Homo sapiens: one gene and its partner. The protein of the gene in region 1 purifies or fractionates together with the protein of each later gene. This does not show direct contact. Each region holds a gene or a part of one and is shown on either strand. Other genes may lie near its edges.

What was found. The genes of interacting proteins can lie anywhere in the genome.
Region 2: the proteins of SEC24B (region 1) and NAA15 fractionate together in Homo sapiens (co-fractionation; one large-scale study listed by BioGRID). This does not show direct contact.

Annotation. Positions count from the first base shown.
Region 1 is NC_000004.12:109,524,261-109,527,914, forward strand, and holds part of SEC24B (protein transport protein Sec24B), read left to right. Parts: intron 1-557; coding exon 558-681; intron 682-1,085; coding exon 1,086-1,244; intron 1,245-1,965; coding exon 1,966-2,139; intron 2,140-3,061; coding exon 3,062-3,172; intron 3,173-3,654. UniProt on the Homo sapiens protein: Component of the coat protein complex II (COPII) which promotes the formation of transport vesicles from the endoplasmic reticulum (ER).
Region 2 is NC_000004.12:139,307,867-139,311,520, reverse strand, and holds part of NAA15 (N-alpha-acetyltransferase 15, NatA auxiliary subunit), read right to left. Parts: intron 1-3,654. UniProt on the Homo sapiens protein: Auxillary subunit of N-terminal acetyltransferase complexes which display alpha (N-terminal) acetyltransferase (NAT) activity. The NAT activity may be important for vascular, hematopoietic and neuronal growth and development.

The DNA of each region.
Region 1 (3,654 bases):
AATATAATCATCATACAGTGTAATTAAGAGGATTGAAACTTTTTTTTAGGAAATGTTGTATGATGATTAAGAACTTGGAGACTCTCTCCAGTGTCACCTTCTCAGCTCAAGTCTTCTCATACCAAAAGAAACACCTTCCTTAATCTTTTACTCTCTTAAGTTATTTAACAATATTTAATAATGGTTAACAGCACTCATTCTGCAGCCAGATTTCTTGGGTTGATATTCCAATATCCACTTCTCAATATCTATGTAATCTTGGTCAAGTTACTTAATCAGTTATTGCCTCAGTTTCTTCGTCTGAAAATGTAGATGATAAAAACCATATGAGATGTGTTATGAAAATTAATTTGTGTGAAACAGTGCTGGCACATAAGTGTTTTTTATAAAGATTATCTATCATTATTATTATCATAGGGAATCTGCACCAAATGCCTAGACATTTAGAAAACTCTTAGTTTGGTAGGGAGGCAGAGGATATCCTTTTTGTTATAAAAATGACATGAAAATATGAGCATAAAGATTGCTAGCTCTTACTATATGATCTGTTGACTTAGGTGGTACAACATCTTGGCCCTGCAACTGATTTTTATAAGAAACTTGCATTAGATTGCTCGGGACAGCAAACTGCAGTGGATTTGTTCCTTTTAAGTTCACAGTATTCTGATCTTGCTTCTCTAGGTAAGGAAAGTCATCATGGGTACATTTGTTTAAATGAACATTTTTAATGCATAATTAAATCTAAACTCTTCAGTAAGCATTCTCTATATTTTAGGGAGAAAAGCATGTGCATTAGATAGACAATATCTATGAAAACTACCAGTAAAGTTTAAAGCACTATACAAATATAAAATGTCACTTGTATTTTGTTTAGATAGCATGATTCCCTTACCATTCTGCTCAACAGTAAACTTTATCATATATTTTATAGATATTACTGTTTTCTCAGATTTGTATGTTCTTATTTTGATGGCTTAGGTTTTCTCATGACTTAGATTTCTTCATAATGTAGAATCTGTACTACTGTTGGACAAGTAAAATATTATTATTTCTATAGCTAATACTTTTTGTATTTCTCTCTAAAGCTTGCATGTCCAAGTATTCTGCAGGGTGCATCTATTATTATCCATCATTCCACTATACTCACAATCCTTCACAAGCAGAAAAGTTACAAAAAGACCTAAAACGGTATCTCACAAGAAAAATTGGGTTTGAAGCTGTTATGAGAATAAGGTGTACTAAAGGTATGAAGTTGTAAAAGTTATATTTTATATTAAATACTTGTATCAAAGTCAGTGAGCATTCCATGTATTGACTACCTCTGACTGTTCATGATGGAAGACTGTTTGATCTCATTAGCTATACCATGTTTTAAATAGATAATAGTTATTGAATAATCCTTGCCCAATTTTTAAAAATAACTTGAATAAGTAGACAAAAGTAATGTTTGATTTACTCAGAAGAACCTAAGAGAAAGCCTATATTAGAAATGATTTTAGAAGGAGAATTAGAGGAATAGGGAAGATCTTAAATAAGAATTGTCAAAGTAAGGGTCTTTGCCTTCATAATCATTTAATGTACACTTCCTTGGTTTTATGTGAATATTTGTTTTAATCCTTTATTTTACCTTTATTTTAAATCTAGGATGAGTTATATAATAACCCTCATTTGCTTAATTTTGTAAATTAAATGTTTAGTCAGATTATGTCTGACTTCAAGTCACATGTGAGAAAATGTAAATAAGGTTAGGTGTCAATACAAGTGAAATGTATAGTCTCCCTTTTATATAACGTCCACTAGTTTTTTTGAATTAATATTTTAGAAACTCTGCCTATGCTTGAACCTTGACTCCCCAGTTATCCTTTTGATTCAAAATCATAAACATCTTTGACTTAAAAAAGTAACTTTAGCTTGAGGTGAAGATACTATTGTTAACTTGATTTTTTATGATTTTCTCCTTTTTAGGTCTTTCAATGCACACTTTTCACGGTAACTTCTTTGTCCGTTCTACTGATTTGTTATCCCTTGCCAACATCAATCCTGATGCTGGATTTGCGGTGCAGTTGTCAATTGAAGAAAGTTTAACAGATACTTCCTTAGTATGTTTTCAAACAGCCCTATTATATACATCAAGCAAAGGTAATGTTAACAGAAATGAAATATAGTCTGCAGCAGTAATTCCTCCCTCCTTTCACATGGCCTTTAGTGGAGTGGGGAAAAAGAATGAATACACAGTGGGAAGTAATGGAATTTGTATTAGTTAATCAAACATATGTTGTTATTTTCTTTCTTTTTTTAACTCTCACTTTTGCATCTTTAAATAGCACACTTTTTTAATTTATGGAAGACTTGTATTCTTAGAATCTTGTTTCAAAACAGTTCATGCTAAATCCAGCTATGCCATTCTTTGTATTATTTCTTGCCCCAAAAAGTAAAAAACTGCTTAGCAATTAAGGCCTTCATTTGTTACTTGACAGTTAAGTTTTCTGGTATTTTACTCTATAGGATATAATTTAGAATGAGTGATATAGCGTATGTTCATACTCTGCAGATTTGGAGAGTGTTTAATTTTCTTTTAAAAATGTTCATTGTAAAACTTGGTTTTTACATCTCAAAATCCTGTTGGTGATGTAATCTAGCCAAAACAATAACTTGAATAAAAATTCGACTTGTGGCTGGATGTGGCGGTGGCTCACGCCTGTAATCCCAGCACTTTGGGAGGCCGAGGTGGGTGGATCACCTGAGGTCAGGAGTTCCAGACCAGCCTGGCCAACCTGGTGAAACCCCATCTCTACTAAAAATACAAAAATTAGCTGGGTATGGTGGCAGGCACCTGTAATCCCAGCTACTTGGGAGGCTGAGGCAGGAGAATCACTTGAACCTAGGAGACAGAAGTTGCAGTGAGCTGTGATCACACCATTGCACTCCAGCCTAAGAGACAGAGCAAGACTCCGTCTCAAAAAAAAAAAAAAGAAAGAAAGAAAGAAAAAAAGTATTTGACATGTTTGCTTTGCTTTATTTCCTTTTTGATCTAATGTATTTTCAATGACTTTTTTTTTAGGTGAGCGGAGAATTAGAGTACATACACTTTGTTTGCCAGTGGTAAGTTCACTAGCAGATGTATATGCGGGAGTGGATGTACAAGCTGCCATCTGCCTTCTGGCAAACATGGGTGAGTAAAAATTGAAGGAACATGTGAAATGTATTTTTCTATCTTAAAAACTGAAGCTTGGCTGGTGGCAGTGCGTCCGCCTGTAATCCCAGCATTTTGGGAGGCTGAGGCGGACGGACCACGAGGTCAGGAGTTTGAGACCAGGCTGGCCAACATGGTGAAACCCCATCTCTACTAAAAATACGAAAAAATAGCCGAGCGTGGTGGCAGGCGCCTGTAATCGCAGCTTCTCAGGAGACTGAGACAGGAGAATTGCTTGAACCTGAGAGGCGGACGTTGCAGTGAGCCGAGACCGCATCACTCCAATCACTCCACTCCAGCTTGGGCAACAGAGTGAGACTCTGTCTCAAAAAAAAAAAGAAAGAAAGAAACTGAAGCTAGGATTTTCTCTTATTTAAAAAGCATATGTTTTACATTTTTATTTACTGCATTGTGAATCAGACTGTCCTCACATTTCTTCCTTAATCTTACTTTCAAAATCT
Region 2 (3,654 bases), about 30 Mb from region 1:
AATTAAACTTCAAAGTCTTACCATAATATAGGCTCTGCCCAATATCCTACAATTATTTCATACACTAATGTACTCTGTAATGCCAAAGCCCAGCTTAACTCCCTTCTCCAAAAATTTATGCAAGCACACAATCCAAAGATCTTTTTCTCTCTTGCCCTGTAATCACTATTTTCACACTCACTTCACATAACAAATATTTATTAAACATCTACTATGGTACATCATTTTAACCAATGTGAATAGAGCCATTAACAGACGTCCTTATCTTCATAAACCCTACATTTTAATTGTGGAAAACGTGATAAACATAAAAGTAAATGTATGTCAGAAGCTGATAAATGAGAATAAAGTAAGAAATAAGAAAATAAGGTGAGAAGGACTGACTGCTAGCCAAGGAAGGTCTCTAAATAACATTTAAAGGACACCTGTTTAGCCAGGCATGGTGGCATGTGCCTGTAGTCCCAGCTACCCAGAAGACTAAGGTGGGAGAATCGCTTGAACCCAGGAGACAGAGGTTGCAGTGAGCCGAGATCACACTACTGCACTCCAGCCCTCCAGCCTGGGCAACAGAGTAAGACTCTGTCTCAAAATTTTTTAAATTAGGCCAGGCATAATGGCTCACACCTGTAATTCCAGCATTTTGGGAGGCCGAGGCAGGTGGATCACCTGAGGCCTGGAGTTCAAGACCAGCCTGGCCAACATGGTGAAACCCCGCCTGTACTAAAAATACAAAAATTAGCCAGGTGTGGTAGGAGGCACCTGGAATCCCAGCTACTCAGGAAGCTGAGGCAGGAGAATCACTTGAACCCAGGAGGCAGAGGCTGAAGTAAACTAAAATTGTGCCACTGCATGCTAGGCTGAGTGACAGAGCAAAACCCTGTCTCAAAAAATAATAATAAAAATAAATTTAAAATTAAAAATAAAGGACATCTGAGCAGAAGTCCTAAAACAAATAAGAAAAATGAGTCACACAGGTATCTGGGGGAGAAAATTCTGAACAGTCCTTTGCATATGATCCTTTATACGACATAGCTTTTTATGTCCAAAAATGTTTTTTTTTTTTTTTTGAGACGGAGTCTCGCTCTGTCGCCCAGGCTGGAGTGCAGTGGCGGGATCTCGGCTCACTGCAAGCTCCGCCTCCTGGGTTCACGCCATTCTCCTGCCTCAGCCTCCCAAGTAGCTGGGACTACAGGCGCCCGCCACTACGCCCGGCTAATTTTTTGTATTTTTAGTAGAGACAGGGTTTCACCGTTTTAGCCAGGATGGTCTCGATCTCCTGACCTCGTGATCCGCCCGCCTCGGCCTCCCAAAGTGCTGGGATTACAGGCGTGAGCCACCGCGCCCGGCCCAAAAATGTTTTTATGAAGAAAGAAGATATATTTGAATCAATGCTCTGTCAGAACTTCATTGTCAGAAGCAGAAATATTAAAAGATATAAGACTGCACACTAAGGAGAGGGATCCCTTCAGTTGAGGCCAGCTGGACAGTATCTCTCCAGTCCCCCAATCACACCGAGCACCATGCCCGCCCCTCTGGAAACTGTTCATTAACCAGCGCTCCAATAGTTTGGATGGCAATTCTATTATCATCAAATAACTAGTTTGAGCCCCAATAATGACCCAGGACTGCAAGACTTTGACACATCTAAAAAATGGAACATTAAATTCAGTTCCCTTTTAAGCTTTAGTCTGCTTTTCTGAAAATATAGTGTTGTCCATCTACTACTATTGAAAACTGAACTGTGGTCACTCTGCACAAACAAGTATTTTTAACCCACTCTATTGACGCAAAAGAATTTTTAAAAAATATTTTTTAAAACATTTCAGGTTTCTAACACAATACAGAATTTTAAAAATATATGCTGTCAGTTTAAAACAAAAACATATATTTGTTCATTCATACTGCATCTCACTCCAGAAAGACAAAAATTAAAAAGTAAGCAAACAGGCCAGGCGCAGTAGCATGTACCATAATCTCAGCTACTTGGCAGGCTGAAGCAGGAGGATCACCTGAGCTCAGGACTAGCCTGGGCAACACAGTGAAATCCTGGACACACACACACACACACACACACACACACACACACACACACACTTAAAAAGCAAGCAAAGAATAAATTTACCACATTATTAAAAGATTTTCACTTCTCACTAGATTTTTTTTTTTTTTTTTGAGACGAAGTTTCACTCTTGTCCCCCAGGCTGGAGAGCAATGGCGCGATCTCGGCTCACTGCAACCTCCACCTCCTGGGTTCAAATAATTCTCCCGCCTCAGCCTCCCAAGTAGCTGGGATTACAGGTGCCTGCAACCACGCCCAGCTAAGTTTCGTATTTTTAGTAAAGACGGGGTTTCACCATGTTGGCCAGGCTGGTCTCTAACTCCTGACCTCAGGTGATCCACCCGCCTCAGCCTCCCAAAGTGCTGGGATTACAGGCGTGAGCCACTGTGCCCGGCCCTCACTCGATTTTTACAGAAAAATCATTTTGTAATTTTTATAATAATTATATACACATTATATACACATATATAAAATAGCAAAACTGCATTTTGTTTTCTGGTATACTTTTAAGGGATAATTTATCCGAGTTTAAATTTACGATTACCGGCAGGGTGCGGTGGCTCACGCCTGTAATCCCAGCACTTGGGAGAGGCTGAGGTGGGTGGATCACCCGAGGTAAGCAGTCTGAGACCAGCCTCGCCAACATGGCGAAACCCTGTCTGTACTAAAAATATAAAACTTAGCTGGGTGTGGTGGTGGACACCTGTAATCCCAGCTACTGGGGAGGCTGAGGCAGGAGAATCACTTGAACCTGGGAGGTGGAGGTTGCAGTGAGTCGGAGAGTGCAGTGAGCTGAGATCACGCCACTGTACTCCAGCCTGGACGACAAAAGTGAGACTCCATCTCAAAAAAATAAATAAACTTATGATTAACTACTAAGAGCTGAATGGGATTTCAGAACAGACCAAACTTTGTTTCCATTTTTTGATTTTTTGTTATATTCTAAATATATGAAGTACAAGCAAAAGTATATTAAAACCAATTTCAAAGTTACTGTCCACTCTTAGTTGCAAAACTGGAATTCTGTCACAAAGAAATTAATCAGTTAAACTTTCATGTGCATATGGACACCTACTTGCTAACAATTCCTAATCTAAATTTCATCAGCAACTGAAGCTAAACTAAGTATCATTAACTAGCAGAAACATTAACTTTCCCAAAGAAAATAAATCACATAAAATAATTTACCTATTATACAATGGGCCGGGCGCGGTGGTTCATGCCTGTAATCCTAGCACTTAGGGAGGCCAAGGCGGGCAGATCAGGAGGTCAGGAGATCGAGACCATCCTGGCTAACACGGTGAAACCCCGTCTCTACTAAAAATACAAAAAATTAGCTGGGTGTGGTGGCAGGTGCCTGTAGTCTCAGCTACTCAGGAGGCTGAGGCAGGAGAATGGCGTGAACCCGGGAGGCAGAGCATGCAATGAGCCGAGATTGCACCACTACACTCCAGCCTGGGCAACAGTGAGACTCCGTCTCAAAAAAATAATAATAATAATAATAATTTACTTATTATACAATGTATACAGCCACCTAATAAGTATTACTACTCCTTTGCCTAACAATTCCCTCACCCTCCTCCTACACCCCTCCC